4 linked regions of the Homo sapiens genome follow. The protein of the gene in region 4 interacts with the protein of the main gene of each other region in a pairwise test. Each region holds a gene or a part of one and is shown on either strand. Other genes may lie near its edges. The genes, in order: MYLK, HCK, GEM and GOPC.

Evidence for each region.
Region 1: the proteins of GOPC (region 4) and MYLK interact in binary tests that used the Homo sapiens proteins (3 or more experiments, as listed by UniProt).
Region 2: the proteins of GOPC (region 4) and HCK interact in binary tests that used the Homo sapiens proteins (3 or more experiments, as listed by UniProt).
Region 3: the proteins of GOPC (region 4) and GEM interact in binary tests that used the Homo sapiens proteins (3 or more experiments, as listed by UniProt).

Annotation. Positions count from the first base shown.
Region 1 is NC_000003.12:123,727,301-123,734,338, reverse strand, and holds part of MYLK (myosin light chain kinase, smooth muscle), read left to right. Parts: intron 1-116; coding exon 117-652; intron 653-1,236; coding exon 1,237-1,443; intron 1,444-7,038. UniProt on the Homo sapiens protein: Calcium/calmodulin-dependent myosin light chain kinase implicated in smooth muscle contraction via phosphorylation of myosin light chains (MLC). Also regulates actin-myosin interaction through a non-kinase activity.
Region 2 is NC_000020.11:32,069,208-32,076,245, forward strand, and holds part of HCK (tyrosine-protein kinase HCK), read left to right. Parts: intron 1-480; exon of another isoform or gene 481-544; intron 545-2,454; coding exon 2,455-2,575; intron 2,576-4,111; coding exon 4,112-4,154; intron 4,155-4,508; coding exon 4,509-4,611; intron 4,612-5,415; coding exon 5,416-5,514; intron 5,515-7,038. UniProt on the Homo sapiens protein: Non-receptor tyrosine-protein kinase found in hematopoietic cells that transmits signals from cell surface receptors and plays an important role in the regulation of innate immune responses, including neutrophil, monocyte, macrophage and mast cell functions, phagocytosis, cell survival and proliferation, cell adhesion and migration.
Region 3 is NC_000008.11:94,248,750-94,252,354, reverse strand, and holds the end of GEM (GTP-binding protein GEM), read left to right. Parts: intron 1-131; coding exon 132-336; intron 337-1,589; coding exon of another isoform or gene 1,590-1,603; exon of another isoform or gene 1,604-1,767; coding exon 1,768-2,045; 3' UTR 2,046-3,102; downstream 3,103-3,605. UniProt on the Homo sapiens protein: Could be a regulatory protein, possibly participating in receptor-mediated signal transduction at the plasma membrane. Has guanine nucleotide-binding activity but undetectable intrinsic GTPase activity.
Region 4 is NC_000006.12:117,564,492-117,571,529, forward strand, and holds part of GOPC (Golgi-associated PDZ and coiled-coil motif-containing protein), read right to left. Parts: intron 6,465-7,038; coding exon 6,369-6,464; intron 5,368-6,368; exon of another isoform or gene 5,246-5,367; coding exon 5,081-5,245; intron 2,544-5,080; coding exon 2,363-2,543; intron 1-2,362.

The sequences.
Region 1 (7,038 bases), on a different chromosome or scaffold from region 4:
GCTTTTGTGATCCCTGGAATCCGTGCTTGTGATGAGTAATATTTGTGAGTAACCAGATGATCATTCTATTCTCCCCTCTCCTCACCCACCCTACCCCCACCCTCACCACCACACAGGTCATTTGTGAGAGAAACAAAAGCCACCAATTCAGATGTCAGGAAAGAGGTGACCAATGTAATCTCAAAGGAGTCGAAGCTGGACAGTCTGGAGGCTGCAGCCAAAAGCAAGAACTGCTCCAGCCCCCAGAGAGGTGGCTCCCCACCCTGGGCTGCAAACAGCCAGCCTCAGCCCCCAAGGGAGTCCAAGCTGGAGTCATGCAAGGACTCGCCCAGAACGGCCCCGCAGACCCCGGTCCTTCAGAAGACTTCCAGCTCCATCACCCTGCAGGCCGCAAGAGTTCAGCCGGAACCAAGAGCACCAGGCCTGGGGGTCCTATCACCTTCTGGAGAAGAGAGGAAGAGGCCAGCTCCTCCCCGTCCAGCCACCTTCCCCACCAGGCAGCCTGGCCTGGGGAGCCAAGATGTTGTGAGCAAGGCTGCTAACAGGAGAATCCCCATGGAGGGCCAGAGGGATTCAGCATTCCCCAAATTTGAGAGCAAGCCCCAAAGCCAGGAGGTCAAGGAAAATCAAACTGTCAAGTTCAGATGTGAAGGTGAGTAGAGGTAATTAGGGTCACCGATTGCCAAAATGTAGCCCCTTGGTGGCCACTCCCTTCCTTCAGCACCCAGCTAGTCTGCATCACCTATATCCACTCATCTTCTTGGACTAGCTCCCCTAGAAAACCACCTTACAAGGGCCTTCCCCTTAGGAGTGACTCATTGTAGAAATGCCCTTTATTCTGGAGAGACCCCTAACAGTAGCCTGTTGTTTGCTCTTGGATAGAGTACTGGCCCTGGCCCTAGTTCTTACCACCCTAGAAGAAACACCCTCATTATCGCCAACATCGAAAAGCAAACCTCATGGTCTCCTCCGCCCTTTCTTCCCCTTGCCTGGCTTTGGCCAACCTGGAGACCTTGCCCATCACGCTGTATTCATCCTCCTCAAGGCCCCTGACTCTCTCAAGAGGTTTCGTCTTGTGGAGTGTGGTTGAGGGTGAGGAAGCAGACTCAGAGGTGGGAGGGCAGCTCCACACCAAACTGAGCCCTTTCCTCCAGCTCACACCTTCCCCACCTACCTCACAATCACAGGGTGCTCTCCAGGGCATAGGGAGCTCACGTTCTTTACCTGGCCCTGTAGTTTCCGGGATTCCAAAGCCTGAAGTGGCCTGGTTCCTGGAAGGCACCCCCGTGAGGAGACAGGAAGGCAGCATTGAGGTTTATGAAGATGCTGGCTCCCATTACCTCTGCCTGCTGAAAGCCCGGACCAGGGACAGTGGGACATACAGCTGCACTGCTTCCAACGCCCAAGGCCAGCTGTCCTGTAGCTGGACCCTCCAAGTGGAAAGTGAGTACACTTCTCCAGGTCACCCCGCATTCTCTGTGGGACAACCATTCATGGGGTGCTTCACCTTCTGCAGATGGTTCATCTCCTATAGCCCCCTGCCTTGGTGCACAGCCCGACAGAAATGTCACCCCCAATCACATGCCAAGGCCAAGTGTGTTGCTCTAGGCCAGTGATTCATAATCAGGAGTTCACATCAGAATCACCTCAAAATAAACATGCATGGCCCCACACCCAGCCCAACTGACAGCTACCTTTCCTAGGTCCCTCAGCTGTTTGAATAGTGCCGTGACTCACGTTTGTAACCACAGAGAACTGAGTGTTCATTAAATATACAGGTTTAGAGTAATGTGAGATGATGTGGGATCCCACATCTTTTATGTTTATTGTACTGTCTGTTTATAAAAGTAATGCATGTTCATTGTGGGGAATTTAAACAATATATAACCTTATGACTCAGAAATAAATTATATTTTAATGTTTTTTATACAAACTTACCATTGTGGTATTTGTATACTGCTTTCTATCCTAATTTGCTCATGTGATATTAACATCTTTTTATACAATTCTTGGAAAGCATGACTTTTAGTAGCCATATAATATTGCATGAAATGGCTGTATCTAATTTAGGTATGCTGTTATTTGTTGAATAATTAAATTGTTTCCATTTTTCACTATTATAACATACCTATGATAAATATTCTTGTACCTGTCTATCTCTATAAAATTTCCCCCTTACTCTAAATGCATATGTAAGCCCCAGGCCCATGCCATACCCTTGAGAAATGCATTAACAAATACCACAAGAGTAGAATCTGCAAATTGCAGGCTGCTGGAAACTGTGGAACAAATAACTTTCACCCATTTTTTTTCCACATACAAATTGCAAGCAAAAAAAAAAAAAAAAAGACAACCTATAGAAAACTTATATTAGAAGGTATATAGTAACATCAACAATTACAATAATTTTTGATAATCTTCTGCCAATCCTGACTGAGATAATCTTTAAAAAGTTTTTATGGGAACATCAAGAGAATTTGGACACTGATAAGATTTAATATAAAGGAATTCGTGGTGTTTTAAGATGTGATGGTGGTCTTGTTACTTTTTTTTTTATAAGTTCATCTGTTTGAGAGATATATCCTGAGTTATTTACTGGTGAAATGATATGGCTTTTTATATTTGACTTAGAAATAATTCATGTTTGGGGAGCACTGGCAGGGATATCAATGAAATAATATTGATATAAATGAAAGTTGAGAGATGGGTACATAGGAATTCACTACACTGCTTTGTCTACTTTTGTGTGTGTTTGAAAATTTTCAAAATGCACATTTCCAAAAGAAAAAAAGAGTTAGTGATGTATCCATATAGTAGAATGCCAGACAACATCCTGTAGACTGATGCTAAAACATGTTCAAGATGCACTAGGAAGGGAGAGGAGCAAAGTACAGGCTCATGTGTAAATGGAAGAAAAGATCTGTGTACACACATGCAAAAGATGCCTGTGTGTGCACAAATCATTTCTGGAAGAGCACAAAAGTCCCTCTAGGAAGGGGAAACTAGGGGTTCACAGGAAGGAATGGGGCATCTTACTTTTCACTGTATACTGTTGATTCACTGGGATTTTAACTGTTGTTTAACTGGGATTTTTACTATCCTCGTGAATTCCTTTACAAGAAATATTATCCATGCCATTTGCAGGTGGGAGTGCTGGTAGGCAGAGTTCACAGGTCTAGGAGATCAAGCCTCATCATCCAGGCCAGGTCTCTATCCCTGCGCAGGGGACAGAAATATGGTGTCAGGTCCACCACAGATTAATGGCGTATCCAGAGGGCCTAGATTCTCCTGTGGCTTCTTCTGCTGTGAATTCATCTAAGTCTCACAGAAGACTATTTTTAGCCTGTTCGCGTCATGGGGTAATACATCTCAGGTTGATTCCCTATCTTGTTGTGTTTTGTGTGACAGCTTTATTGAGATATAATTCACATAACATAAAAAGCACCCTTTTAAAGTACACAATTCAGTGGTTTTTAATATATTCACAGAGTTGTGTGGCCATCACCATCATCTGATTTCAGAACATTTTCACTACCCCTCCCAAAAAAATCCTACCCATTAGCTGTCACTCCCTGTTCTCCCATCCCCACAACCCCTGATAGCCACTAATATACTTTTTGTCTCTATGGGTTTTCCTCTTCTGAACATTTGATGTTAAATGGAATCATTCAATATGTGGCCTTTTGTGTCTGGCTTCTTTCTCTTAGCTTAATGTTTTCAGGGTTCATCTGTGTTGTAGCAGGTGTTAGTACTTCATTCATCCATGTGGCTGAATCATATTGCATTGTATGGGTATAGCATACAGTGTTTTGTTTATCCACGCATCACTTAAGGTCCATGTGGTTGTTTCTACTTTTTAGCTATGGTGAAAAGTGTTGCTATGCACATTTATGTATGAGTTGTTTTCAATACCTGTTTTCAATTTTGATGTTTAGACCACATATATTGTTGGGTCATAAGGTAATTCTGGATTTAACCCTCTGAGGAACTAACAAACTGTTTTTCACCATTTTACATTCTTCTAGCAATGTACAAGTGTTGCAGTTTTTCCACATTCTCACCAATACTTGTTATTTTCTTGCTTGCTTGCTTGGTTTCTTGCTTTTTTTAAAAAATGAGGTCTTGCTTTGCCAATGGGGCTAGAGTGCAGTGGCATGATAATAGCTCACTGTAACCTTGAACTCCTGGGCTCAAGCAATCCTCCTGCCTCGCCTCCTGAGTAGGTGGGACTAAAGGTGCTTGCCACCACACTCGGCTAATTTTTTTTATTATTTGTAGAGATGGAGGTCTCACTATGTTGCCCAGGCTGGTCTCAAACCCCTAGACTTGAGTGATCCTCCCACTTCAACCTCCCAAAGCACTGGGATTATAAGCATGAGCCACTGCACTCAGCCTGTTTTCTATTTTTTCATTATAGCCATTCACAATCATCTGACTATGATTTTTTTTTTTTTTTTGAAACAGGGTCTCACTCTGTTGCCCAGGCTGGAGTGCAGTGGCGTGATAATAGCTCATTGCTGCCTCAACATCCCAGCCTCAAGTGATCCTTCCCACCTCAGCCTCCTGGGTAGCTGGGACCACAGGCATATGCCACTATACCCAGCTAATTTTGTTTATTTTTGTAGATAAAAGGTCTTACTATGTTGCCCAGGCTGGACTTGAACTCCTTGCTCAAACAGTCCTCCCACTTTAGCCTCCTAAAGTGCTGGGTTTACAGGCATGAGCTGCCACACCCAGCCTGACTGCAATTTTGATTTGCATTTCTCTGATGACTAGTGATTTTGAGCATCATTTCATATACTTATTGGACATTTGTATATCTCCTTCAGAGAAATGCCTATTCAAATACTTTACCCATGTTTTAATTGCATCATTTACTTTTTTATTGTTGAGTTGCAAGAGTTCTTTATGTATTCTGGATACAAGTCATTTACCAGACATGATTTACAATAATCCTCTCCCATTCTGTAAAGGCTGGATTATTTGTCATGTGCGGCCACAGAAGTCCCTGCTTAGTTAGTTTAGTGATCACCTAATTGATTGGATGGAGAGTTCCTTAAATGCCTTGAACTAATACTTTTCCCAGCCTTTGCCAAGGGGCTCTGTGTGTGTGTTACGCCCATCTTCAGTGCTCCGGCCAGCAGTTTACAGCTCTGCTTTAGCCTTTACTTTCTGCTTGCACCAAAGCTCCAAGTCAGCCAGAGGTGAGACAGGAGGGCCTTCTTACATCTTTCCTGGGCAGGCTCACAGCCCTGCACAACCATTTGGGCTCCTCAGTTCTCAGGAATCTGTCAGAGCTTTTCAAAGTCCTGGACATCTCATTCCCCAGTTTTTCCTTTGAAGTTTTTTGGTCAGGCTCTTGTTAGCTCCGAATGATATTGCTGTCTCAAGTAGCTATAATGTTAAACAATTGCTACTGATTGATTTTAACAAACATCCTGGAGACAGGGCCATCCACACAGAGTAAACTTTGAGTCGGATTAAACAAAGACAACCCGGAAAATGGAGTCGTTGAAGGAGCTGCCAGACAGGGCAAATAGTGACCATTCTCTTACGCATGGGGTTTTTCAGGAGCTCTGAACCCATCCTGCCCCTTGCTAAGTGGCTGATTTTCACAAGTACCATAGGTACTGTCGGTTTTCAGAGTTACCCCAGAGCTGGGGCAAGGGGCACAAGAGTGAAAAAGCACATAGCTTGCTGTTCTTACCAAGATTCAGCTATGTTTTATTGTTGTTGTTGTTGTTGTTGTTGTTGTTTGTTGTTTGGGAGGGTGGAGGGGCAGGGTATTGTTGTTTGGGGTTTTTTGTTGTTGTTTATTGTTTTTACTTTTTAGAGACAGAGTCTCGCTCTGTCACCCAGACTGGAGTGCAATGGCGTGATCATAGCTTGCTACAGCCTCAAACTCTTGGGCTCAAGCAATCCTCCTGCCTCAGCCTACTAAGTGAGACTACAGGCACATGCCATCATGCCTGGCTAATATTTTAATTTTATTTTTTTTGGTAGAGACAAGAGTCTTGCTATGTTTCCCAGGCTGGTTTCAAACTTCTGGCTCAAGCAGTCCTTCTGCCTTGGCCTACCAAAGTGCTGAGATTAAAGACTTGAGCCACCACTCCTGGATGTTTGTTTGTTTTTATTGAATGCTCCTCAGAATGTTGCAAGCCTGTGGTTAATTTCTGGCATTCTGAAACCGTTGCTTTTGACTCTTTTTGCCAGTATTGTTGTTGCTTTTATGGAGGAGTAGATCTTCAGAGGTCTTTACTTTGCCATTCCACATCCTATCTTCTTGATGAAGACACTCGCTTTTCTAAAACTTCTCCAGTTCCTAAACATCCTAGCTAATTCTTGGCAGATGAGTTTACCATGAAGCAGGTCATCTGATGGGTGTTCTTTTAGCTCCTCCTACATACTTCTCTCTTTCTGTTTTCCTATACTACAGAATACCTGTCTGTTTCCCTTCCCAAGACTTCTCTTTCTGTCCCTTCCCATCTTCACAAGGATCTGATCTAACAATGATTTACTCTCTCACCACTTCTTCAATCTTTCCCCTTCCCTTATTGAGAGACCTCTTTTTTCTCCCTACAAGCATGCTGTAGTTGTCCCTATGCTGAAAAAGGAAAGAAAATCTTCCTTCCACTTGAGAGCCCCTGCAGCTCCTACTCTATCCCTCCACTCTCTTTCATCCCTAGACTATATTTGCCTCAAGTAGAGTCTCTATGCACAGCTTCTACTTGATAATAACAGCTAACACTCACTGAGGATGTGCTATGCTGGGTTTTGTGCTAAATGCTCTACCTGAATTGTTTCATTTAGTTATCCCAACAATCTTACAAGAAAATCATACCCATTTCCTAGATAAGAATACTGATCTTTAGTAAGGTTAAATGACTTGTCCAAGTTCACATGCCTTGTAAAAGAGAGCATATTTCTAACCCAAACTGACCTGGCATGAAAGCCTATATCCTTTTTTGATAACTCCCAAAGGCATTTCTCTAATGAGGGAGTTCAACACTGGCCAAGGGGAGGGATGGAGAGGGTGCC
Region 2 (7,038 bases), on a different chromosome or scaffold from region 4:
AGAACCCTTGCCACCCTTTCTCAGAGATGGCCTTGGATTGTGAATGAACACAGGTCTTCTGAGACCCCTCCCTCGGGACCCTGTGGCCATCTTGAATATGTACATTGATCACGTAAGTGAAGCATACAAGGTGCTCAACGCGCATGGATTGGAAATCACAAGACTCACAGCTGCAGATCAGTGGGTGCCCAGAGAGGTAGAGTGAGCTGCCCTACCTCACACAGTGCTGCTCTTCCCAGAACATCTTTATGCTGACCAAAACACACGAAATGTGATATAATTTTATGTCATATATGTCACACAAGATGCCCGTTTAATTTCCCAGAACTGTAATACACATTTATCTCAAAGAGAGATGCTGGTTTCAGTTTTAAATGCATGCAAGTACATTATAAATCTGTGCTTAATTATGATAATTTTTCAAATTAATGATCCAGCACTCCAAGAGTCTGAATGTGTTCCTTATTTTATTTCCAAAAGACAAACAAAGCAAAACCGCTCAAGTCTTGAGGTGGCAAATCTTTCCCAGTTCCCACCAGAAGAGGTAAATCCTTGTAAATAAAAGGAATCTTTTTTCATTTTTAAAAGTAACTCATCTAAGCCTAGGAGTTTGGGGTTTTTTTCCTTAAACCACAAATACATGTTTATTTTAACAAGATAAGTATAACTGAGTTCTAACTGCTTTAGAAGAAAATGGCAATTGTGCAGAGATGAGAAAAGCAAGCACTTCCTTATGTGGTTGTCACAGCCTGCCTTCTCAGCAAATGTGTGTGCACATTTTGAGAAAAGAAATGAAACATTTCTTCCACTTTTACAATTATGTTTTGACTCTACTTGGAGTAAATGTGTTTTGTTTAAGCATCCTTAAATTAATTCAATACAGCAGCAAAGTCTGCAAGCTCTACCTCCAAAATGTCCCCCAAACCTGTCCAATGCTTACCTCCTCTCTGCCCCCACACTACCCTGGGCCACCATCATCTCATACCTGAACAATTTTGGCAGATTTCTCACAGGGTTCCCTCCCCTGCTCCCCACTGTCCACGCCTCACTCAGCCACCGGTGGGATTATTTAAAGTGCAAATTGAATCCCATCATTCTCCTGCCAGAAACTTTCCATCATCCTTAGAATAAAATCCAAAGTCCTTACTGGCCCTACAGGATATGGTGGCCTTGTCACAACCACCCTCTTCCCTGCCCATGAGCTTCAGCTACACTCTCCTGCTTTCAGTGCCTCCAACTTCTCTCTAAGCACATGCCAGCCTCAGGGCCTTTGCATTTGCTGTTCCCTCTGCCTGGAACACTCTTCCCTCAGAGTGTCCCCTCACTGGCTCCTTTGTGTCATTTAGACCGCAGGTTCTGTATCCCTTTCTCTGACAGGCCTTCCCCAAATGCCCTGCCTAAAAGAGCCAGACCTGTTGTTCCCCACAGCATCCTCTCTTATTGTCCTCACACTTTTCATTAACTCAATTTGCCCTGTTATTTATTTGTTGGCCTGTTTATTGTCTCTGTCTCCCATTCGGCTGCAGTTGAGGTCCTGAGGGCGTGAACTTGCTTCTCTTCTTCACAGTTTAGAAAAGTGCCCAGTAAATCTTGGCTGTGTAAATGGATGAATGAATTACCAAACAACTCAGAGAGAGACAGAGAGAAAGAGAGGAGGAAGAGGAAGAGGAAGAAGACGAAGAAAGAGGAGGAGGAGGGAGGACAGAGGAGGGGGAAGGAGGAGGAGGGGAAGGAGGAGGAGGGGGAAGGAAGAGGAGGGGGAGCAGGAAGGAAGGGAGGGAGGGAGGGAGGGAAGGAGTTATAAGCAATTTATAAATTGATACCAGTAATACGGTGCCTTGACAAACTAGATTGTTTGAGCCATGTTATGTGACCTCATCTTGTTATTTAATATAAAAATGGCAATTTATCATCTGATAATACTGCAGTTTTTCTGTAGTGTTTGCTCTGAGCCTGACACTGCACTGAGTATTTCCCCACTGTAGGTCATATTATTGTCCCCATTTTGCCGATGAAGACCTGAGAGGTGGGTAGGGGCAGGAAAGTGGTCAGTGAGGTGCTGGTGGGGTGGAGGGGCCAAGGATCAGCTGAGGCTTTCTGACCTGAGAGCTGGCAGTGCCCACCCAACAGCTCTACCTGTTACATTTCTGTTATCCTCATGCCATCCTCTGAATAAACATCCATCACGCTGGTCCTTGGTACCCACGACAATGACAGCTTGTCAGCCCTGGGCCAGTGCTGTGGCACGTGGACATGGGGAAGCCCAGAGGTGGCAAGGATGGAGTGGGTTCCATGTGGGGAGGATAAGGGTGCATGGAGCTGGCAGGGGAGTTAAGACCGGGAAGGCCAGTGGGAGCCAGCCCGGGGGCAGGGGACCTGGAATGCCAGCATCAGAAGACTTCCCCGCATGAGGCTCTTGGTAACTGGGGCTCACCTCCCTTCTGTCTGCTGCAGGATGGGGTGCATGAAGTCCAAGTTCCTCCAGGTCGGAGGCAATACATTCTCAAAAACTGAAACCAGCGCCAGCCCACACTGTCCTGTGTACGTGCCGGATCCCACATCCACCATCAAGCCGGTGAGTAGGGGAGGTCCCAGTTTCCCTGGGGGCTGACGGATGCTGCCCCAACATTGCCCTAACAGCCTCCTGTCTTCCCAAGGTTGGGCAGGGTGAGCTTGGGGTGAAAGGGAGCTGACTGGCCACCAACAGTGTCCTGACTCGACTCTCCGGGACGCAGCGCCAGCCAGCATGCATAGGGGCAAAGAAGTCATCTCTCTTTCCTGCAGCCCAGGCTTGGCCCCTCAGCCTGAGCTCCACCAAACAGGTGTGAGTGAGCATCTCAGGCCTCCGGCCTGGGCAGAAGCAAAAGCAGTGCTGAGAAACGAGTGAACAGTAATGATAGCAGCTGAAGTGACAATGTAATGGTAGTATCAGCAGCATTGCAAAAATACAGTAACAATTGTCATACTAATAGTACCAACCATAATTGCGTGAGTATAAGACCAAGAGTAGCAGCAGGAACAACAGCAAGAGTTGTAAAAAGAGAAGCAGTCATGCTAGGAGAGGTATTTACCAACTTCTTTTATGTTTATACAAAGCTGACTATGAACCCAGCACTGTTGTAAGCCTTTACGGTTATTAACACCCTAATCCTCACAATAATCCTATTGTGTGACACACAAATACATTCTTCTTGAAAATAAAAACACAGGCCAGGTGCAGTGGCTCACACTTGTACTCCCAGCATTTTGGGAGGCTGAGGCAGGAGGATTACTTGAGCCCAGGAGTTCGAACTGCATGAGCTATGATCACGCCACTGCACTCCAGCCTGGGCAATACAGGGAGACCCTGTCTCTTTAAAAAAAAAAAAAAAAAAAAAAAAAAAGAGCTGCTTAGAATGCCATAGTTTAGGTGTCACTTCCCCCTTGCATGGACACTTAGATTGTTTCACATACATAACAGAGCCTTTATTTATGGAATATAAATCACTGGTGGGCCTGTGATTTCTCCAAACTTAGTCGGAAAACACTGATCTGGACCGACCCCTTCACTGTGTGTTGAGGGGAGGGGTCAAGCAGCATCCCCCGGTACATCCAAGACCGAAGGCCGAGGTCACAGCTCAAGAAACCTGGATCCTGGCTGGGCACAGTGGCTCACTCCTGTAATCCCAGCACTTTGGGAGGTCAGGAGTTCTAGACCAGCCGGGCCAACATGGTGAAACCCCATCTCTACTAAAAATACAAAATTAGCCAGGCATGGTGGCATGCGCCTGTAATCCCAGCTACTTGGGAGGCTGAGGCAGGAGAATCACTTGAACCCGAGAGGTGGAGGTTTCGGTGAGCTGAGATCACGCCACTGCACTCCAGCCTGGGTGACAGAGTGAGATTCCATCTCAAACAACAGCAACAACAAAAAATCTGGACCATTTTGTTTGCTGGCTCTGCCCCTAATGTGCCGTGTGGTGCCAGGCATGTCCCCTGCCGTATGTGGGCCTCCTCCCACGACATGCAGGGCTAGGGTAAGATGCTCTTGGGTGTCCTTCTCAACACAGACCTTCCACGGGTCCCCACACATTGGTCAGATTCATTCTCTTCTCTCATTTCTTCCCCACAGGGGCCTAATAGCCACAACAGCAACACACCAGGAATCAGGGAGGGTAAGTATCTACGAGCAGATGCAGTGGAGTCATGTGTCCTGCAGAGGACTCCGCTAGGTTCTCCCTTAGCTTGAGGCATAAATCCCAAACAGTCAAACCCCTGTCGAGAATCCCCAAAATTTCCTCTGAAGTGCTTTGCGCAGGCTATTGTGTTTCTAGAACGCTGTTTAGTAACATGAACAAAACATATTTAGCTTTAAACTTGAGAATCACACCCAGCATGGTGAGACGCCTACTTATACTTGGAACCACATATCGATGGGTGCGGAGCTGTTCCAGGTGCCGGGTGAGGGTCACCAAGGGCTGTGGATGCACTTAGACGAAACCTCACCCTCTGTGTGTCTCCCTTCCCAGCAGGCTCTGAGGACATCATCGTGGTTGCCCTGTATGATTACGAGGCCATTCACCACGAAGACCTCAGCTTCCAGAAGGGGGACCAGATGGTGGTCCTAGAGGAGTGAGTCCCCATCCCACTCCCCCTAAGACAGACCTGCCTCCTCTACTCAACTATGTGCTCTTTTGTGCTTCCATAAAGAACCTGATAGATGGGCTATCTTATCCTGGGTATAAATGTCTAATGAGAAGCTAATCACAATAGTGGAGGAAGGGTTTGCTGTCAACCTGGATGAAGGGGATTGTGCACTTACTGAGAGTGCACGTCCAGCCTGAGATGAACAGGTGACGCTTTCTCAGGGAAGCCTTTCTAGGGCTCCTGCGATTAAGCCACCGGCTTTACCTGTGGACCAGGCCCCATCGAGTCGACCTTGCATTTGGAAATCCTTGGATCTCTGAGTTTGCCACCTCGGATCTCCTACAGCCTTCACCATCATGGGTATAGTGTCCAGGATGTGCTGAAGCCCGAGAACGGGAGTGGTCATGCCTGGTCGGACTCCCAAGCCCACTCTCCCCTATTCTCAGCCCCAGCTGAACCATTCTGAGTCTCTATAGGCACAGGACCCTGCCATGGGTATAGCTAATAAGACCAAAGCTGCAAGTCCAGGGAAAAGGAGTGGAGCCAGAGACCCAGGGCTCTGGGCTGTGGACAGGGAGATTCCAGACCCTCAGATGCACAGCAGGAACTGTTGTAAGGATCCCTACCCTAATCATGGCCACATGCTGGGGCTGACATAGTCACAGCCCTGTCCTTCACCCTACTGGCTTTCTGGAGGCAGGGAGTTTTCTAGGTCAAGGCTGGGGAGCTTGAGGAGACTGGAGAATGATCCTTCTGTCCCTAACACCTTTACTCCCTCATGTCCCTCAGATCCGGGGAGTGGTGGAAGGCTCGATCCCTGGCCACCCGGAAGGAGGGCTACATCCCAAGCAACTATGTCGCCCGCGTTGACTCTCTGGAGACAGAGGAGTAAGTATCCTATTTCCTACCTTCCAGAAAGAGGCATGAGCAAAGCCAGCCTTGTTTGCAACTCAGGACGTCTGCACACACTGTACCACTGCCTGGCACATACTCTTCCCAGGGCTCTGGGCTTGGCTGGCTCCTTCTCTTCCTTCAGGTTTCATCCTTCCAGTCAGGGAAGAGAGGCTAAAGTGGGTCCCAGCTGTGACTCTGTCTTGTGGAAACCTGTTTTAATCCCTTCTGAACATGTTTTACTAGCAAAACGACCTGGTTTCTTTGGTTGGTTACACGTGCATTCTCTGCCTGCCCTGCAAGGAAGAGAGCTGGTGAGAGCGGGGACTTTGTCTGCTTCTGCATCCTCGGCACAGGCTGGCATGCAGTCAGTGCTCAATAAATATTGTTGAATGAAGCACACGGTCTTGCCAAGGAGGGTTTCTGGAGAGGTGAGACAGCTCACACCTGGCCAGTCGTCCCTCATTTGTTGTTTTGTTTTGTTTTGAGACAGGGTCTCACTCTGTTGCCCAGGCTGGAATGCAGTAGCACCATCACAGCTCACTTCAGCCTCAGCCTCCCTGGGCTCAGTTGATCCTCCCACCTCAGCCTCCCAAGTAGCTGGGACTACAAGTGCGCATCACCATGCCCAGCTAATTTTTTTCTTTTTTGTATTTTTGGTAGAGAGGGGGTCTCTCTGTGTTGCCCAGGCTGGTCTCAAACTCCTGGGCTCAAGTGATCTTCTCGCCTCAGCCTCCCAAAATGCTGGGATTATAGGCCTGAACCACTGCACCTGGCCCATCCCTCATTTGATTCATTCGACAAGCACATGCTCATGACTCTTCAAGCCCTGTGCCAGCCTAAGGGGCTGTGGAAACAAATAAGATATATCCCTACCCTCAAGGAGCTCTCCATAACCCATCGTTCTTGGCTGTGGGTTCTTCTTGTGTCTAGCTTGACTCTAAAAATATACTTCAGTCATCCATCCATCCATCCATCCATTCATCCATCCATCCATCCATCCATCCATCCATCCATCATCCAACAGATACCTGTTGATTCCCTATTCCAGGGTTAGAAGATGACTTAGATGGGGCTCCCTGCTGGAGATGTTCTCTGTATGGTGGATGAGGTTGATGAGTAAAAAGATGACTACATTGTGGGGTGGCAATACATCCCATTAAAAACCAGCCAATCAAAAGTTGACAAATGACAGTCCCCATTGTTTTGTCTCTTCTGCCTCCTCTTTCTAGCTAGATGGTATTATGGGTTTGGGATGCTTGCCTGTTAAAAATGAAAACGCTTAGGCTTTTCCCATTATAAAGCCACCTCCTTCTGGCTGGGCATGGTGGCTCACACCTGTAATCCCAGCACTTCGGGAGGCCAAGGCACGCAGATCACCTGAGGTCAGGAGTTCGAGACCAGCCTGACCAACAAGGTGTAACCCCATCTCTACTAAAAATACAAAAAAAATTAGCTGGGTGTGGTGGTGCGTGCCTGTAGTCCCAGCTACTCGGGAGGCTGAGGCAGGAGAATCACTTG
Region 3 (3,605 bases), on a different chromosome or scaffold from region 4:
CGATTTTCTTCCTTTTTCCTATTTTTCCTATCAGCAAGTGTACTTTAGGATACACATATTGTTTCTTTGCAAACTGATGCTTTATTCCCCAGGCCTAACTGAACTCACAGAAGATCTTATTGTTTCATTAGGGGGAAAATGAATGGCTCCATGACCACTGCATGCAGGTCGGGGACGCATACCTGATTGTCTACTCAATCACAGACCGAGCGAGCTTCGAGAAGGCATCTGAGCTGCGAATCCAGCTCCGCAGGGCCCGGCAGACAGAGGACATTCCCATAATTTTGGTTGGCAACAAAAGTGACTTAGTGCGGTGCCGAGAAGTGTCTGTATCAGGTAAGAGGAGCAGAGCCAATACTGTAGAAACAATCGCTGGATCACATGTGTTTTCCTTCAGACACGGGTTCTTCCCTCCTTCCACGAGGCTGGATCTAGGAACTCATTAAGATGCTATATGAAATTTTAGGTGTGTTTCTCAGACTCCTACAGTCCCAGTGGGTCTCCTCCACACTAGTTGTTCTCCCTTGTCCATCTGGTCTACCTGCAGGATACTAATCCTCCCGCTTTTAAGGAGTTTCCTGGAATTCCCAAGAGTACAGGGAAATGAAAGTAGCATCTTCATGCAAGGAGGATAGGGAACTCTGATTTAGGGGAACTGTGAGAAAGAGTTTCATTGAGGAAAAAGAATTCTACTCTGGCTGACTCTGGTTCCTGTGAGCCCTAGAAACACTGTCCTACTCTCCTACTCCCCATCCCTGGCTTCTGAAATTTCATTTGAGGCATCAGTCTGATGGGGTCACATATTCTTCTTCATACTTAGCTCAGGGAAAATCTCTATCTGCTGAGTGGGCAGCCAAGTGCTTTTATAGCCCTTGAGATTTTACTGGCCTAATTCAGATTTGATCCTGGTACAATTATAAAACTAAAATACTACATTGCCGGGCCCTGCTCAGGAGGAAAGACACCTGATAAAGACAATGTACACACTAGTTTGGGAATGTCTTCCTACTAGGACACAACTGTCTACAGTAATCATTTTTTTTCCAAACCAAAACTTGATGCATGGTCATTGAATGCAATGAAATACTTGAAATTGAGACTGTCCCAGAAAAGCTTGTATAATTTAACTGTATTACACATTTGTAAAATTCTCAATTTTTTCCCAAGATATCTCATTATTGCTTTATTTTTATTTTTATTTTAAAAGAGAGGAAAGCTAAGCAGTAGAATTCTTATTTCCAATTCTGGAAACTGGGTCAGGAGAAAGAGTTGAGTATGGGCTTGAGAACTGAGCAGACCTGGCTTCACTGCCACTTACAGGCTGTGTGAACTTCACCTGCAGAGGAGACTCCCCTCGGTTTCTTCATGTATTTGACAGGGATAATAATGTATTTTCCAAGATTGTTGTGGACATTGAAAACAGTGTTTATAAAGAACTTAGCCTTGTTCTTGGCACATTGTAAGTCAGCAGTAAATTAAGGGTATGGCTTTTACTGTTATAACTAATATCACTATATTTGATGAAATGGGACCTTCAGACAGTGAATTTATGGGGGATCAGATCTAAAGCCCATCTCCCTTACTTCCAGGGACCCTCCAGTGAGACATTTTCTATTCATGCCCTGGGAGGGCCCATGCCGCAGCAGCATCCTCTATCCACTGCATATACAGCTGACTTAGTGTTACCTCGAAGAACCATCCAGCTTGACTGTGTGCTATGTGGGACTGTGCTCTGCAGTCCCTCTGACCTCTTTCTTTCCTTCCCAGAAGGGAGAGCCTGTGCAGTGGTGTTTGACTGCAAGTTCATCGAGACCTCTGCAGCTGTCCAGCACAACGTGAAGGAGCTGTTTGAGGGCATTGTGCGACAGGTGCGCCTTCGGCGGGACAGCAAGGAGAAGAATGAACGGCGGCTGGCCTACCAGAAAAGGAAGGAGAGCATGCCCAGGAAAGCCAGGCGCTTCTGGGGCAAGATCGTGGCCAAAAACAACAAGAATATGGCCTTCAAGCTCAAGTCCAAATCCTGCCATGACCTCTCTGTACTCTAGGAACCCAGGGTCACCCAGATGTCCCTTTGATGGCCGTTGTTGAAGGCCATTGGGACCAATAATCTATATTAGATTGAATACTTAAGTTAGATGTGGTTTCCCCCATTGTAGCAGGGAGCTAGCGTATTAGCCTTGTGGGCAACATGATGCATGGGAAATGAAAGATTTTTGTAAAAAGTCAGTATTTATTTCCAGGAAAAGCCTGACCTTGCTATTTGAACACCCAAGACTCTTTAGAGGATGTGTTTGGTGTTCACATGTGTTTCTTCTATTTTGGATAGTAGAGAAGTAAAGCTTACAAAGAATGCCTAGAACAAGAACTTTTCATCATTAAAAATTTTTCCCAGTGTTCTGATATGTGACTTTGAGGCCAATGAGTCATAAACAAATATAAGAAAGCTGTCAATGAGTTTCTTCAAAGGAGGGAAAACTTTCTACGAATCTAAGATCCATGGAGCTAGAATTGTAGAACTAGGCTCATCAGAATCGTGACTATTATTGCTCCATCAAACTGTGAAAAGAAATGATGTGGACCTTGCTGGAAACAAAGGCTTAGCAAACAATTTTTGTTCAATGCCCACCAAGACATATAGAATTGGGAACTGATACATGTGTCCCTTATAGGCTCAAAAATTATATCTTACAATTTCTTATTTAGGGGGAAATTATTTGAATCAGATTCTATTTAGTCAAACCACCTTTTATGTTTTATTATTTTTGAATTCATGGAGCCATCATAAAAATATTTTTAAAATCAGAATTATTGATACCCTGTAGTGCAAAATGTCAATTTTTAATGTATAATCAGAAGTCTGAATTTTTATAAAACATATAGCATAAAAACTTCCAGTACTTTGGTTGACCCTTGTATGTCACAGCTCTGCTCTATTTATTATTATTTTGCAAAATAACCATTTTAACATTTGATAAAGCATATTTATGAACATATTTCTTAATAAGAAAAATATCCATTTTATTACCATTTTCTATCTTTTTCAAAATATGCAAGTTTTTACCTATATGTCTTATAATAAAAGAAATAAAATATTTGAAAAAAGGCATTCTTGATTGATTTTCCTCCCCAAACAAGATGATTAGGATTATTTTTATACAGCCTTTAGAGCAAGCACATTCCAAAGAGACATATGCCTATTGTTTTCTTTCTTTTTCTCACTAGCAATAGCCCAGTCATTATCCGTTTTAAAGGATATCCCTGACATCTCTGCTTTGAAATCACGATTCACGGTAATGCAAAGTTGTTTTTGGCTGATACCGTTGGGAAGTATTTGGGGTCATCTCAATGCTGTTATAGGAAAAGCCAGATTGACCTTTTACTTTGGTCTGGCAAATGCCTGACTGAACAGATGGGCTTCACTTTGCTCCCTGGAGGCTGATGGTCTTAAGCTTGACTAAGGCATTAGAGGAAGTTATAAAGGATTAGGGGGAAATAAAATAAAGGAATCTAGTGATTTCCAGCCTGAGATCTAGCCAGGCAAAGCTTTCACCAAATTCTCCTCTCTGACATTAATATGGCTTGACATTAATCACTTGGCATCTATC
Region 4 (7,038 bases):
ATAAAATAAATAATAGGCTTATAAATAAATAAGTGTTGACTATATCACCTATTTAGGTGATATATATATCTATAAAGTATAGACGTGTGAAACAATAACCAATAGATACATTTTTTTAAGTGAGTCAGTTAAAAGATATATACACACAAATTTTTAGTTGAGTCACATTTTAAGTGTCTGCAATTTGCATATGTGACAGAGAAGACTTCTAGCCTCAGTTACAAAAAAAAGGAAGAGACAGGCTTTCTAATCCCGACAGAAAACAGCAAGTGTGAAATACAATGAAACCATATGGAGAGCAGCCCAACAATTAAGGTTTTGACATACTGCCACAATAGTTTTGCTCAAGATGCACAGTGAAAACAGTAACTGCTACTGCTATCTTTGTGCAGACAGTTTACAACACACAAGTTTATCAAAAGTGCAACAGTTTATCAGTTCACCATAAAACTCCATGCCAGGAGTTCAACATTTTGGTCTCAGGAGGCCTTTATACTAAGCATTGAGGACTCCAAGAAGCTTCTGTTTATGTGGATTATAGCTACTGATGTTTCCCATATTAGTAGGTAAAATTGAAAAATCTAAAAAAAAATTCATTTCTTTGTTAAAAATGACAATAAATCCAGAAGGTTAATATAAATAACATTTGTCTAATGACAAATAACTCTATGTTCCAAACAAAAAAATTCTAGTTAGAAGAGTAGCATTATTTTACAATTTTACAAATCTCTTCAATGGCTTTGTAGATGATAGCTGTATTTTCATATATCTGCTTCCATTCAATCTATTACAAGTATATGAAGAAAGTTCAGCCTCACACAGATATGTAGTTGCTAAATGGAAGAGTATTTTAACAGCCTTTTCAGATAACTGTCAGTATTGTTCTCTGATATTATACAAAAATTTGACAATGTGGAATTTGAAACCTTATCAGTGAACTTTTCACACTCTGTTATATTAAAATCCATTTGCCTATCTTGCATTTTGAATGGATCTTTTCCCATGCAAAATTTTATAACTTCATTTACTGGTGATTTGAAAAATATTGGACCATGAAGTTATGTAGCAATTCCAAAAGTTGACACATTTCACTTTACTGTATCAAAAAATCACATTCATTAATATCATCATCAATCTCATCAGAAAAGCTTAAGTGTTAGGAAGCTGTCAAGCTCATGGTGATCAACGTATGTTTTACAAAGTTCTAACTTTCACTTGAGAGCTCACATTTTATCACTGGCAATAAATATTATCAGTTGTCTTTCCTGAAGTGATGGACTTTGTTCATTTTTAAGAAAATGGCTTCCAAATAGTCCGAAAATCCATACTTTGTTAGTCATTCATTCAAGTAAAAATTGTCTTCCATGAAGAAAAATGGCTAGTTCAGTCACTTATGTACTTTCCCTTGAAACCAGCATCTTTGTTCAGTGTGCAGAGTAAGTGCTTTATGCATACTTCCCATCTCATCACAAAGAATATTAAAAAGACAGGTACTCAAAGGTCAATATTTAAAAATTAACTGTTACTGCCATTTCATCAAAGATATTTTTAAGCAAAATTGGTATCTTCTTCTTTTACTATGAATGGATGGCAAGGAAGAAAACAATGATTACTAGTACAGTTACTAGTATTAGCAACACTGCCTTGATTAGTGCTAAGGCACCAGCAGTTTTACCCCAATTGCTTTTGCATCAACCAGATACCATCAGTGCAAATATCAACATAGCAAAAAAAGACAAATGATGTCTTAGTATTATTATGAAAAGCTTTGACCTCATGAACTCTGCTAAAATATCTCAGAGACCCTCAGAGATCCACAGATCACAATTTGAGGACCACTGCTCTATGTAAAAGGAAGTGCTAGAGTTTTTCCTTAAAATATGTCTAAATGATAGCAAAGGAACTAAACCAAACATCCCCAAGATAATATAAGTTGATTCTAATAGCAATCATAAGGTGACAGTATACTTCATACTTATTCATAATTAGCTTAAAATTCATTGTGAGAGATGAATTTGCATCAAGACAGACAGACAATGTAGTCTACAAGATAGATCTACTCAAAATAGTATATTGGTCTTTGTTTCAGAGTCTAGAAAAAATTTTATTTATTTTTCAAGGATCACTTGCAGTAGAGTAACTGGTAATGTACTTGTCTTAACAGTCCAAGATGAATATAGAAGAACATATATGGTAAATAAACTGTTAGCATAGTATACAATAAAACAATAAACAAGGGAAAGCTCTTCATTCCTTTGATTTCCTCACAAAACAGTTTTACTGAAGAAATTCTGAGGCCTTCACATTTTAAACATTTAATAATAATGAATATGTTAATAATAATTTTTAGAGTGATTTTTACCTTGTAATACTTTGATTTCCCCACTTGTGTCTTTGCAACTAGCACCAGGGTTACCACCTCCTTCTAACTCATCAAGGTACAAACGGTAACGATGTCCACTCTCATCTTCATACTCTACGTTTTCATCATCAGAATCCACTTCAGGAGCCACATAAACTACTTCAAATTCAATCTCTCCTCTCTAAAACAGGAAATGAAAATGAGAAAGTCAAGTTATTGTAATTGTAATTTAAAAAGGATTTCCAAATTCTTTGTGGGAAGGCTTAGGGGTAGAGAGATCTAAGAGATAGCTGATTTCCAGAAAATAAATAATAAAATTCTAGAATCTAAAGAGGTAGTGAGGCCATCATGTCTGATCAGCCTCGTGAATCCTCTCTACAGTTCCTTTAAACATTATAGTAGCTCTTTCTACTGACCATAGTCTTTTTGCTAATAGATCTAAAATTTAAGAGGATGCTTAATTATTAAATTTATAGAATTTTGGAACAAGTATTCAGTTTTAAAGTTATTTGCTACTTTGTACTGCACACAGCAATTCAGCAAATACATCTAAATAGTCAGATATTAAATAAGGATATCATACAAACCTTTCCTTAACTAATTCAAGAAACCCCTAGAAAATGATTTTTGTACACTGCCATAAGGACATCATATAAATCTTTTCTTAACTAATTCAAGAAACTCCTACAAAATGATTTTTTGTTTCTTATTCAATAGGTCTTGAGTAAGAACTTACACTGAGTACCAGACACAGACATAGTGTTAATCAAGGTATTCTGTCTCGTACTAATAGTAATTACTATATTTATATATTTACTATAAATTATAGCCTTCAATCCCCAGAATAATCCTATTATAGTCTCTTTTACATGAACGAGAAAGCTGAGTGAGTCCTGCAGAAAGCAGATAACTTTCCCTACATAATGAACAAGAATAAAGAAAAACAAAAGTTTGACTCTGAAGTCCTTAATCTTTATATTATGCTAGACTAACTGTGTAATATTTGTACTGTCATTCTTTAACAATGAAACATTCAAGTAAAAAGTTACAGATCATGCCAGGCACAGTGGCTTACACCTGTAATCCCAGCACTTTGGGAGGCTGAGGCAGGTGGATCGCTTGAGCTCAGGAATTCTAGACCAGCCTGGGCAACATGGCAAAACCCATCTCTACAAAAAAAAAAAAAAAAAAAAAAATTAGCTGGCCATGGTGGCAGGCATCTGTAGTCTTAGCTACTCAGGGGGCTGAGGTCGGAGGATCTGTTTGAGCCTGGGAGGTTGAGGCTGCAGTGGTCCGTAATTGTGCCACTGCACTCCAGCCTGGGTGACAAAGTGAGATCCTGGCTCCAAAAAAGAAAAAAATGTTACAGATCGTTTTATGTTAAAAGAAAAATTTCCAAGCTATAATTGTCATTTAATAAGAGACTCCAACCACTACATATAAGTGTGGTGTTGGCAATTCTGAAAACTATGGCTTGCCTTTGCTCAAAAGAAAACACGGCATTTTTGACTGCTACTCACTAAGTTAGTCTCTTTGGTGCTCTTCTTTCCCAGCAGTTTAAGGTTATACCTCAGAATTTTAATATGTGCTTAGTTAGCATTTCCTTAAAACTTATGGCTGCCCATTGATAGCTCCTTCACCAGTTATCCCACTCTTTTGCTACTGGATGACAGTCAAGATGGATTGATAAAACACTAACTTAAGAGAATAGCGTAGCATTCTTAGATCTCTCTTGTCAGCTAATGCTTTAAAAATACCATTTTGCAGAAAGAGACAGATGATGCAGTGGTCTTCAGCAAAGTTTTAGATGACAGAATTAGATCTGTGAGTAGCTGTCATGGAGACACAGATTTCAGGCTTAATATGAGAAAAAGCTTTCTAAAAATCAGTACTGTATTACAATGGAATGGACTGGTTGATATCAGCAAGTCTTCCCTGTAATGTAATTATTGAAGTAGTGATGTTGCAAAGATTTATGCATCATATAGAATTGAACCAATGAACAATATTCACTTTCAACTCTGAGATGCAATTCTACAGAGGCATACCACACTGATAATCCAAGAAACATCTCAATGTACTACCAATGCCTCTAATTCCCTCAACTCTATTCTTGAAAGAAATAAAATAAAACAACATTTTAAGTACAACTGTATGACAAATATGACTCCTGAGTATGAATCTCAATTCTATAATTTATTTGCTTGGCAACTTTGAGTAAATCCTTTCATCGCTAAGAACTTTAGTTTACTCATTTTAAGAGAGTTGGGCTAGATAGTTTCTATGTGTGATTTCAATTTTAATATTCCATGACTAAAATCAATCTACTTCTAGCACTGTCTTTTCTGTAATACCTTATATATAGTGTTCTAGGCATTAAGGATGTTGTTTTTTCAGTCTCAGGTCCTGTTCTGAGTACTTTATATGTATTAACATACTTAATCCTCACAGCTTTCTTTCAATCCCTCCCACACAGGTGAGGACACTGAGGGACAGAGGACTTAAGTAACTTGCTCAAAGTTATGAAGTAAACAAAATGGAATGGTCCATTTTCAGTAAATCTGACTGAATGTCAGCTATAAAAGCATTAAATCAAAGGAAACAAGAACTATGTGTAAACACTTTACTACTTTAGAAACTTCGTAGGGAAGTATACAGTGTTCAATAGATTCATAACCAATTGATAGATCCAGTTCTAATTACATGAAGGGAATTTACCTGCTGAGAAAGAATAGTTACAGCTTCTTTATGCTTTGTGTCCCTTAGGTTAACTCCGTTGACTGCCAAAATAGCATCCCCAACGTGCAGCCCTCCGCATCTATCAGCAGGTTGCCCCGGATGGATCTCAGAGATGAGGATTGGAACACCATGTTCTTTCCCACCCTAACAACAACAAAGGGCAGTAAATTAAAGTACTCTTTGTAAGGTACAGTTACCGATTAATCTAGAGATAAAATATTTTCTTAAAAATATATTTCATTAAACACCTATGCTGTCTCTATAAATGCTGGGTAAAATTTTATTTGCTACTTAAGTAATGGTAAAAATTATCAGAGTATTGAACAGAAATTGGCTAAATTCTTAAATTAAAAAAAACTTATGTGTTAGTACTCCATAGCACCATTACATTTTATCAAGTCTAAATCACTACGAATGACAAGACCAATTATTTTAGGTGCCACAAAAATAATTTTAAGATTATAAGATAAATTTCAATTTCAGAGAAGTTAAAATATGAAAATATATGCAATGTAGAATTGAAAAAATGCAGTATTTGGTACCTATCACTCTCTAGCTTATATCATTGTTGCGTGTGTGTAGGGGTGTGTGTGTGTGTCTTATTTGTCCTGCTAAAATGTATGCTCTTTGAAGGCAGCACATAAAAAAAAAAAAGGTAAGTATTCAAGAAATATAGATTAGATGAGCTTTTTATTATAAGAAACATTTCTACATTAAGCAATACTAAAAAAACAAATGATCTTGCTCAGTGCCTAAGTATTACCAAATGAAAATTAAAGCCACCTTATTCATTAAAGCACTGAGATGACAACAAAATGACTCCTAAAGGCATCGAATTTAAAAAAAAGAATATATAACATTTGGACCCAAGAGCCAGTGAAATCTGACAGCTAATAAATGAGGCAAGAGAAAGATACACGTACTCCGAGAGAGAACAATACAATCTGAAGCCATTTAACATAGAAGAAAACAGCCACGTCTATTCCCAAGGGCTCCTAGAGGCATCACAGTATATGGCACAGAACTATTAAGTGAATCATAATAAAAATGTTAAACTATGCTTACTAAAGGTACACTTAATAGTTGCTAGGAATATTTATTTCTTAAAAAAATATTTACACAAAAGCAAACATTTATCCCCATGGGGATAAATTTTAGTTATTTAAAAAATATATCCAGAATATTCTGTTCCCCAGTGATGTCCAACAAAGGAGCATGATTATACTAGATAACTGTAGAAAATGATACTGGAAGTACTACTTCTTACTGTAATTGAAATGCCAAGGCCTTCATGATCTTCCTTAAGGAGGAGAACTTTTCTAATTGGACCAACACCTTGGCTTTTCTTTAGGGAATCTTGATCCTTATTGGGAGGAAAAAAGAAGAAAAAGTAGTATCATTTAAATAGCATACCAAATAGAGTAAACTCATACTATATAACTTGCTTTTAGAAATCTGTATTAACTTCCTGGAATGGATAAACAGTATAGGGTTAAGAAAGTAACAGATAAAATGGAAAAATGAAAATAGCTATTCTGTTGATGCAAAATTTATAGATGATATTCTCACCCTTTTGCCAATAATGTTTAAAATATTGATACATCTCTTTTTAAATTGTAGGGCATTATAAAAGAAATGATTTCCAGGAATTAATTGAGGAACAAATATCCTCAAAAAATAAAAGTGTCTATCTTCACTGGATATCTTTAAGATATACATTCATTTTAGCTGAGTTGTAGAGTTGAAAAACAAATTTCCAATTGGACCATTAATTACTTATACATTCCTTGGTGCTCTGGAGTCTACCTCTTAAATAAAGGGCCTTGATCCACTAATAATCTTTTCTCTGGTACCCTTACTCTTTCTGTCTCTACTAAGCTGTTTTCCTACTCAGCAGATAAATGAATCACAAGCCTCTTCCAGTTTTAAAATACTGA